Linked DNA regions of Homo sapiens: region 2 is linked to region 1. The links come from fine-mapping of genetic effects on gene expression. A gene starts in region 1. The other region holds a variant in brackets. All regions are shown on one strand. Distances are from middle to middle. Region 1 holds the start of POLR3E (RNA polymerase III subunit E). Region 2 has its middle 19 kb from the start of CDR2-DT.

Region 1 (4,273 bases):
AGTGTATACCCTAGAGAAATGTCCATACGTAAGACAAGGAGCCATGTGCAAGGATACTTCCTGCCATATTGTGTGTAATGACAAAAATTTAGTAACAACTTAAAAGTTGTACATGGCATGGAATGAATGAATTAGATCTATAGGCATCATAACAGACCTCAAAAACATAATGTTGGGCCTGGCACAGTCTCTCATGCCTGTAATCTTGGCTACTTGGGAAGCTGAGGTGGGAGGATGGCTTGAGCCCGGGAGGTCTAGGCTACAGTAAGCTATGATTGCACCACTGTACTCTAGCCTGGGTGACAGAGCAACACTCTCTTAAAATAATAATAATAATAATACTGTTGAAATGAGAAAAGCAAGTTTTAGGATATCAGTACAATGTGCTAACATTTATATAAGTGAAAAACATACAGATAACCATTTTAGATATTATTCATAAATTTTATAGTAAAAATGTAAGAAATTATTGGAAAGATACACATCAAATTCATGACAGTTATAGACAGGGGAGAATGGGAGGGGGACTTATTTCTATTTGCAATGGTCTAATAATTTCTATTTGTAATAGTGTGATCTATTTTTTATTTATTTATTTATTTATTTATTTATTTATTTATTTATTTATTTGAGACCGAGTTTCTCACTGTCGCCCAGGCTAGAGTGCAGTGGTGGGATCTCGGCTCGCTGCAACCTCCGCCTCCCGGGTTCAAGCAACTCTCCCGCCTCAGCCTCCCGAGTAGCTGGGATTACAGGCATGTGCCACCACGCCAGGCTAATTTTTGTATTTTTAGTAGAGACGCTTGAACCCAGGAGGCAGAGATTGCAGTGAGCGGAGATCGCACCACTGCACTCCAGCCTAGACAGCAAGAGCGAGACTCCACATCAAAAAAAAAAAAAAAAAAAAAAAAAAAAAAGAAAAGAAAAAAGAAAAGGAAAAAAATGCCACAATACTAAGTCATTAATTTAATGCCAGGTGGTGGCACTATGGATGATAATTTTTTTCTTTGTAATTTTTGTGCATTTTTGTTTTTAATATCTTTGCATATCCACACGGATAGGTATTTTAAAATACAGTCTGGTGAAAAATAACAGCCAATTGCAGATCTATATGAATAATGTGACAATATTTGTGTTCAAATCCATACACAATAAAAACAAAGCTATCTTCTATGGCTATATCTATATATATCCATATAGATATAAACATATAAATTCACAGCAAAAGATCTAGAAAGATATATAGTGTTTTAGTCCATTTTCTGTTGCTTATAACAGAATACCTGAAACTGGGTAATTTGTAAAGAAAAGGAAGTTATTTCTTACAGTTATGGAGTCTGAGAAGTCCAAGGTCAAGAGTGTGCATCTGGTGAGGGCCTTCTTGCTGGTGGGGGACACCTGCAGAGTTCCCAGGCAGTACAAGCCATCATATGGAGGGGGTGCTGAGCTGCTCCCTTGCTAGCTAAGGTCTCTCTCCCTCTTCTTATAAAGCCATCAGTCCCCCTCCCAAGATAACCCATTAATCCATTAACCCATTAATCCATGAATCCATGAAGAGATTAATCCATTCATAAGGGCTCCACCCTCATGATCTAATCACCTCTTAAAGGGCCCACCACACAATACTGCCACATTGGGGATTAAATTTCCAACACATGAAATTTGGGGGACACATTCAAACCATAGTTCATATTAAACAGATAATAATGGTTAGTTACCTCGGCGGAGGGGCCTAGGATGCGAGTCAAGGTCAAAGAGCATTTGTACCTTATCTGCAAAGTTTAAATATTTTGCAATAATTCGCGTGTTATTTGTGTAAGTAAAAATTTAAACATAATTTTTCAGAGACAACTGCCCAGACCAGCTCCAGGGTTTGGCCGTCAGATCCCCTGGTGCATGTTTCTGATCAGATCAATTTCTTCTCCCGGAGACACCCAATCCGGGTCGTATGGATTACCTGTGGGTTAACCAGGGGTCTCCGGGTTAACCATCCAACTCAGAGTAAAGTTTCTAAAAATGCGTTTTGCTCTAATACCTATTCGGAACCAACCTGGGTCTAAAGACTGGAGCAAGTGTTTATTTTCCAAAACACGGCTTTTTAAAATAATTCTATAGGGATCACCTTGAACACACGTTAAGCAAAAAAAAAACCTCAGCGAAAACGCCTCGCAATGTCCAGATTAAATGCAAAAGCAAAAGCATTAAGTAGCTTTCTGGCATAAACATATTGCAGCTGGGTAGCGTGGCCGAGCGGTCTAAGGCGCTGGATTAAGGCTCCAGTCTCTTCGGGGGCGTGGGTTCGAATCCCACCGCTGCCAGGGTTGCTGTCTTTTTGTCCCCGCTGCATACACTCCTGGCTCAGTTTTGCGCGTGCCATCAGCGCCCCCTGCTGCAGGGCGGGGCTCACGGCCTGCATGAATGGCGCGGCGGAGGGGGCGGAGCCGCGTGCACCGGGGCGGGGCATTGTGGGTAAGAGGAAACGCTGGGGCCGGCCCGCTCCCCCCCACGTGTCCGCCGGAGTTTCTCCACCAGCAACATGGCCGCCGCCTGAGAGGAGAGCCGGGCCGCCGCCGTCTCTGCAGCCCGCGGGTAACTGGGCCGTTGCCGCCGTCCGCGCTCGGCCCCCGCGGAGAGGTGAGTCCCGTCTTGGCAGTGCCCGAGCTGGGGCTTGAGCCGGACCGCACTCACGACGTGGGCCTGGGCTAGATTCCCGAGTAGGCCAAGGAGGCCCGCGCCGCGCTGTGCCTAGCAGCTGGAGGCCTCTCGGGACTCGGGCGGGGAGGAGGGGCAGCCGGCTCCAGGCCGACCCCGGACTCTGACTTCCTTGACCTGACACCTGGGAGTTGGGGAGGCCGCGGCCGACGCTGGCGGCGGTGACTCAGGGTCCAGCCGACCTGCCCTATCCGGGCCTGGGAGGCCTCCTACGGAAGAAACACCTGTCCGCGCGTCGGGTGTAGTGGCGGCTCGCGGCAGGGACTGCGTGGTGGGCGTGAGAAGGGGGGCCTGACCACCCGCGAGGGAGCAGAAACCCATTGGACAGCGAGGCTCGGGATCGGCGGCCCGCCCCGATGGGCAGGGAGGGCACCTGCGCCTGCCGGAGCCCCCACTTCGCAGCTGAACCGGATTAGCCTCTGCCCGGCGAGGCCAGGGATTCCTCATTCATTTATTCAGGCAACCATTCAGTGTTTACCGAGCCAACTCTGTGTTCCGGATACAGCCCTGACCATTCGGTCCGAGGAGGTGTCAGTAAACAAACAAGGTCGTTCCTTTGGGTTAGCTTTAGAATTCCTTGGGCTTGGAGGCGGAAAGAAGAGATCTTAGCGATCTCCACAGTTTCCTCATCTGTGAAATAGAGATAATAGAAATTCCTACCTCATAGGGTTGTGGTGACGGCTCAGTAGAAACCGGGTGACGCTCCTGCTTGCAGCGTTTGACTTGTGGCTTAGCGTCATTACCCGCTTACGTTGGCAGAAAACATGTTGTCAAGTAATAACAAACCTTCCCAGAGGTTACGTTTATTAGCGTCCTGTCCTTACTCCTTCCCCGCAGGGGTCTGGAGGTCGGTACTTAGTTTCCCTACTTTAGGGATGAAAATAGGGAGGAATACCAAACCCAGACAACTCAGGTGGGTCACAGATGCCAAGCAGCTGTGGTGGGATTTGAACCTGCACAGTTTTGTTCTCGGGTCCAAGCTCTTACCCACTTAACCATACTGCCGTTTATCAGAAAACCGTGCAGTATAGTGGTTAAGAATAAGAATAAGGATCTTTGACATAGCGAGACCCAAGTTTCTGTCCTCATTCCACCTTGGATGAGTTGCTTATATCTGAACCTCAGTCTCGTCATTTCCAAATTGAAGATGATAAATCTCTATTGATAGGGCTAATGAGAAGATTAAATATAAAGTATTCTTTGTACTATATTGAGTGTCAACTTCGTGCCAGGCACTGTTCTAGGTATTGAGAGAACCAGCACTGGATTTTTTTTTTAAAGTAATGCTCCCCATAACAGCTTTGATGAAGTAAAGTATGATTGTCTGCATTTCATAGTTGAGGAAACTGAAGCACTGAGAAGCCTTCATGGAGCTTACGTTCTATTGCAGAAGACAAACAACACCTGAGCAAATAGACCAGGTAGTTCCAGATTAAGATGAGACCCACCAAGGAAAGAAAACAGAGATGTGGTAGGGCCTGGGAGGAGGCTGGGGGAGGCTTTTAAAATAGGGTGGTCAGGGAACCTATCCTCTCCTGCAGGCGGTGATGATATTTAATAA
Region 2 (4,273 bases), 97 kb after region 1:
TTGACCTACAAAAAAAACTGCATGTATTTAAACTGTATAGTTTGATACATTCCAGCATATGTACACACCATGAAACCATCACCACAATTAAGATGGTTAACGTATCTATTATTCCCCAAAGTGCCTTTCTGCTTCTTTGTTAATCCCTTCCTTCCACCCTTCCCTAACCTCCCTAATTCTCAGGCAACTGTCGAGCTACTTTCTATCAGTATAGATTTGTTTACATTTTATAGGTTTTTATATAAGTGGAATCATACAGTAATGTACTATTTTTTGGTCTGGATTCTTTTGGTCATGTTGTGAGTATCCATATTTAATTCCTTTTTATTGCCAAGTAGTATTCTATTATGTGGGTATACCACAATTTGCTTTTTTTTTTTTTTTTAAATAATTCCTCCCCCTCCGCCCACGTTTTTTATCATTTCAACTTTTATTTTAGATTCAGGGAATATATGTGCAGGTTTGTTATGTGGGCGCATTGTGTGATGTTGAGGTTTGGGGTATGATTGATCCTGTCACTCAGGTAGTGAACATAGCACCCAATAGTTAGTTTTTTAACCCTTGCCCCCTGCCTTTCTAGTATTCCCCAGTGTCTATTGTTGCCATCTTTTTGCCATGAGTACCCAATGCTTATCTCCCACTTATAAGAGAGAACATGTGGTATTAGCTTGTCTGTTCCTGTGTTAATTTGCTTTGGATAATGGCCTCCAGCTGCATCCATGTTGCTGCAAAGGACATGATTTCATTCTTTTTATGGCTATGTGATAGTCCATGGTGTATATGTGCCACATTTTGTTTACCCAGTCCACCGTTGGTGGGCACCTAGGCTGATTCCATGTCTTCACTATTGTAAATAGTGCTACAATGAACAGGAGAGTGTATGTGTCTTTTTGGTAGAGCAATTTATTTCCTTTTGGATATAAACCCAGTAATGGGATTGCTGGGTCAAGTGGTAGTTCTGTGTTAGGTAGTTTGAGAAATCTCCAAACTGCTTTCCACAGTGGTTGAACTAATTTACATTGCCATCAACAGCGTATAAGTGTTCCCTTTTCTCTGCAGTCTATCTGTCTGTTGGTTTTTTTTTTTTTACTTTTAGCAATAGCCATTCTGATTAGTGTGAGATGGTATCTCATTGTGGTTTTGATTTGCAGTTCTCTGATGATTAGTGATGTTGAGCATTTTTTCATGATTGGCTGCTTATGTCTTTTTTTGAGATGTATCTGTTCATGTCTTTTGCCCACTTTTTAATGCAGTTGTTTGTTTATTGCTTGGTCAATTGCTTAGGTTCCTTATAGATTCTGGATATTAGACCTTTGTCAGGTGCATAGTTTGCAAGTATTTTCTCCCATTCTATAGGTTGTCTGCCTACTCTGTTGATAATTTCTTTTGCTGTGCATAAGCTCTTTGGTTTAATTAGGTCCCACTTGTCAATTTTTGTTTTTGTTGCAATTGCTTCTAAGGATTTAGCAATAAATTATTTCCCAAGGTTGATGTCCAGAATGGTGTTTCCTAGGTTTTCTTTTAGGATTCTTATAGTTTGAAGTCTTACATTCAAATCTTTAATCCATCTTGAGTTAATTTTTATATGTGGTGAAAGGTGCAGTTTCAGTCTTCTGCATATGGCTAGCCAGCTATCCCAGCACCATTTATTGAATAAGGAATCCTTTCCCCATTGCTTATTTTTGTTGATTTTATTGAAGATCAGATGGCTGCAAGAGTACAGCTTTATTTCTCAGTTCTCTGTTCTGTTCCATTGGTCTATGTGGCTGTTTTTGTACCAGTACCATGCTGTTTTGGTTACTGTAGCCTTATAGTACGATTTGAAGTCAGGTAATGTCACTGGCTTTGTTCTCTTTGCTTAGGCTTGCTTTGCTATTTGGGCTCTTTTTGGTTCCATATGAAATTGCAAATAGTTTATTCTAACTCTGTGAAAAATGATGTTGGTAGTTTGATAGGAATAGCATTGAATCTGTAGATTGCTGTGGGCAGTATGGACATTGTAACAATATTGATTCTTCCAATCCATGAGCATGGAATGTTTTTCCATTTGTGTCATATATGATTTTTTTCAGCAGTGTTTTATAGTTCTCCTTGTAGAGATCTTTCACCTCCTTGGTGAGATGAATTCCTAGGTATGTTAATTTTTTCTGTGGCTACTGTAAATAGGATCGCATTCTTGATTTGGTTCTCAGCTTGAACATTATTCATGTAAAGAAATGCCACAGATTTTTGTACATTGATTTTGTATCCTGAAACTTTACTGAAGTCATTTATCAGTTCCAGGAGTCCTTTGGTGGAGTCTTTAGGGTTTTCTATGTATAGAATCATATTGTCACCAAA[G/C]ACAGATAGTTTGACTTCTTCTCTTCCTATTTGGATGTAATTTCTTTCTTTCTTTTGCTTGATTGCTCTGGCCAGGACTTCCTTCTTTCATCTCTTGATGGACATTTGGGTTGGATCTGGTTTTTGGCTGTTACAAATAAAGCTATGAGCATTTTGTGTCTTTGTATGGATATATGCTTTCCTTGCTCTTGAGTAAATACCTAGGAGTAGAATGGCTGGGTTGTATGGAAGGTAGATGTTTACCTTTCTCTTTACTTTTTTTTTCCTTTTTTTGTTTGAGACAGAGTCTCATTCTGTCGCCCAGGCTGGAGTGCAATGGCGCAATCTCGGCTCACTGCAAGCTCCGCCTCCTGGGTTCATGCCATTCTCCTGCCTCAGCCTCTCGAGTAGCTGAGACTACAGGCTCCCGCCACCACGCCTGGCTAATTTTTTGTATTTTTATTAGAGATGGGGTTTCACCATGTTAGCCAGGATGGTCTCGATCTCCTGACCTCGTGATCCGCCTGCCTCGGCCTCCCAAAGTGCTGGGATTACAGGCGTGAGCCACCACGCCTGGCCGGTATGTAGTATCTTACTGTGTTTTTGATTTACATTTTCCTAATGACTACTAATGATGTTGAGCATCTTTTCATATGCTTACTTGCCATCCATGTATCTTTTTGGTTATTTATTAAAATAATTTGTGTCTTTTTAAATTGAGTAATTAGTCTTCATATTATTGAGTTGTAGGAGTTATTTGTATATTCTAGGCACATGTCTTTTGTCAGATATATGATCAGTAAATACTTTCTCTTAGTCTCTCTTGGTTACTAGTTGTTAAGAGAAGTATAGCCAAAAGATTTTAACAGTCATTTTTCTTAAGCCCTCACAAAAACATAGGACTTTCTATTGATCTCAATAAAAAATTATTATAAAATGGAAATCCAGGTCTGGCCCAATGGCTAACACCTGTAATTCCAGCACTTTGGGAGGCTGAGGCAGGAGGATTGCTTGAAGCCAGGAGTTTGGGACCAGCCTGGGCAACACAGCGAAACCCTGTCTCTACAAAAAATAAAAGAAAATCCAAAGTTGCTTGAAATTTATTCTTAATTTCTAGAGAATTAACACGTGTAAATTATTGTGGTAAAAAATGACAGCTTGGCCAGGCGTGGTGGCTCACGCCTGTAATCCCAGCACTTTGGGAGGCTGAGGTGGGTGGATCATGAGGTCAGGAGTTCAAGACCAGCCTGCCAAGATGGTGAAACACTGTCTCTACTAAAAATACAAAAAATTAGCCGGGCGTGGTGGTGGGTGTCAGTAATCCCAGCTAGTTGGGAGGCTGAGGCAGAGAATTACTTGAACCTGGGAGGTGGAGGTTGCAGTTAGCCGAGACGGTGCCACTGCACTCCAGCCTGGGTGACAGACTCTGCCTCAGACAAAAAAAAAAAATAATGACAGCTCATTGGAATCTGTTGTTCTTGTTATTCATTTGGCTAAGTCTCTTTAACACTTTATTGGATAAAATAATGAAGGGTGAGCACTATGTTTTCATTTTCTCTTTCTCTCTCCGTCCTCCCTCCCTCCCTTTCTCCCTTCCTCTTTCTTTCTTTCTTTCTTCTTTCTTTCTTTCTTTCTTCTTTCTTTCTTTCCTTTTCTTTCTTTCTTACCTTTTCTTTCCTTTTCTTTCTTTCTTTTCTTTCTCTCTCTCTCTTTTTCTTGAGACAGTCTCTCTCTCTCTCTCTCTCTCTCTTTTTCTTGAGACAGTCTCGCTCTGCCACCCAGGCTGGAGTGTGATGGCATGGTCTCAGCTCACTGCAATCTCCGCCTCCCAGATTCAAGCAATTCTCCTGCCTCAACCTCCCAAGTAGCTGGGATTACGGGCATGTGCCACCATGCCTGGCTAATTTTTGTATTTTTAGTAGAAATGGGGTTTCACCATGTTGGCCAGGCTCGT

What was found. PIP is the estimated chance that this variant, and not a neighbour inherited with it, causes the effect. A credible set is the group of variants that fine-mapping cannot tell apart.
Region 2: its variant is the best candidate, but not a certain one, in a credible set for the expression of POLR3E in whole blood (INTERVAL, PIP 0.61).

What each region holds. Positions count from the first base shown.
Region 1 is chr16:22,294,904-22,299,176 of GRCh38, forward strand. It overlaps POLR3E (RNA polymerase III subunit E), which reads left to right and starts at 2,506. Exons shown (of 21, transcript NM_018119.4): 1 at 2,506-2,634. It overlaps TRL-AAG2-4 (tRNA-Leu (anticodon AAG) 2-4), which reads left to right and starts at 2,237; the gene lies at 2,237-2,318. RefSeq lists silencers at 2,127-2,576, 3,587-3,726 and enhancers at 2,250-2,794, 3,237-3,376.
Region 2 is chr16:22,392,150-22,396,422 of GRCh38, forward strand. It overlaps the pseudogene SLC68A2P. Among named protein-coding and RNA genes, the nearest start is that of CDR2-DT, 19 kb to the left of the region's middle. The variant G/C (reference allele first, on the strand shown) is at 2,341.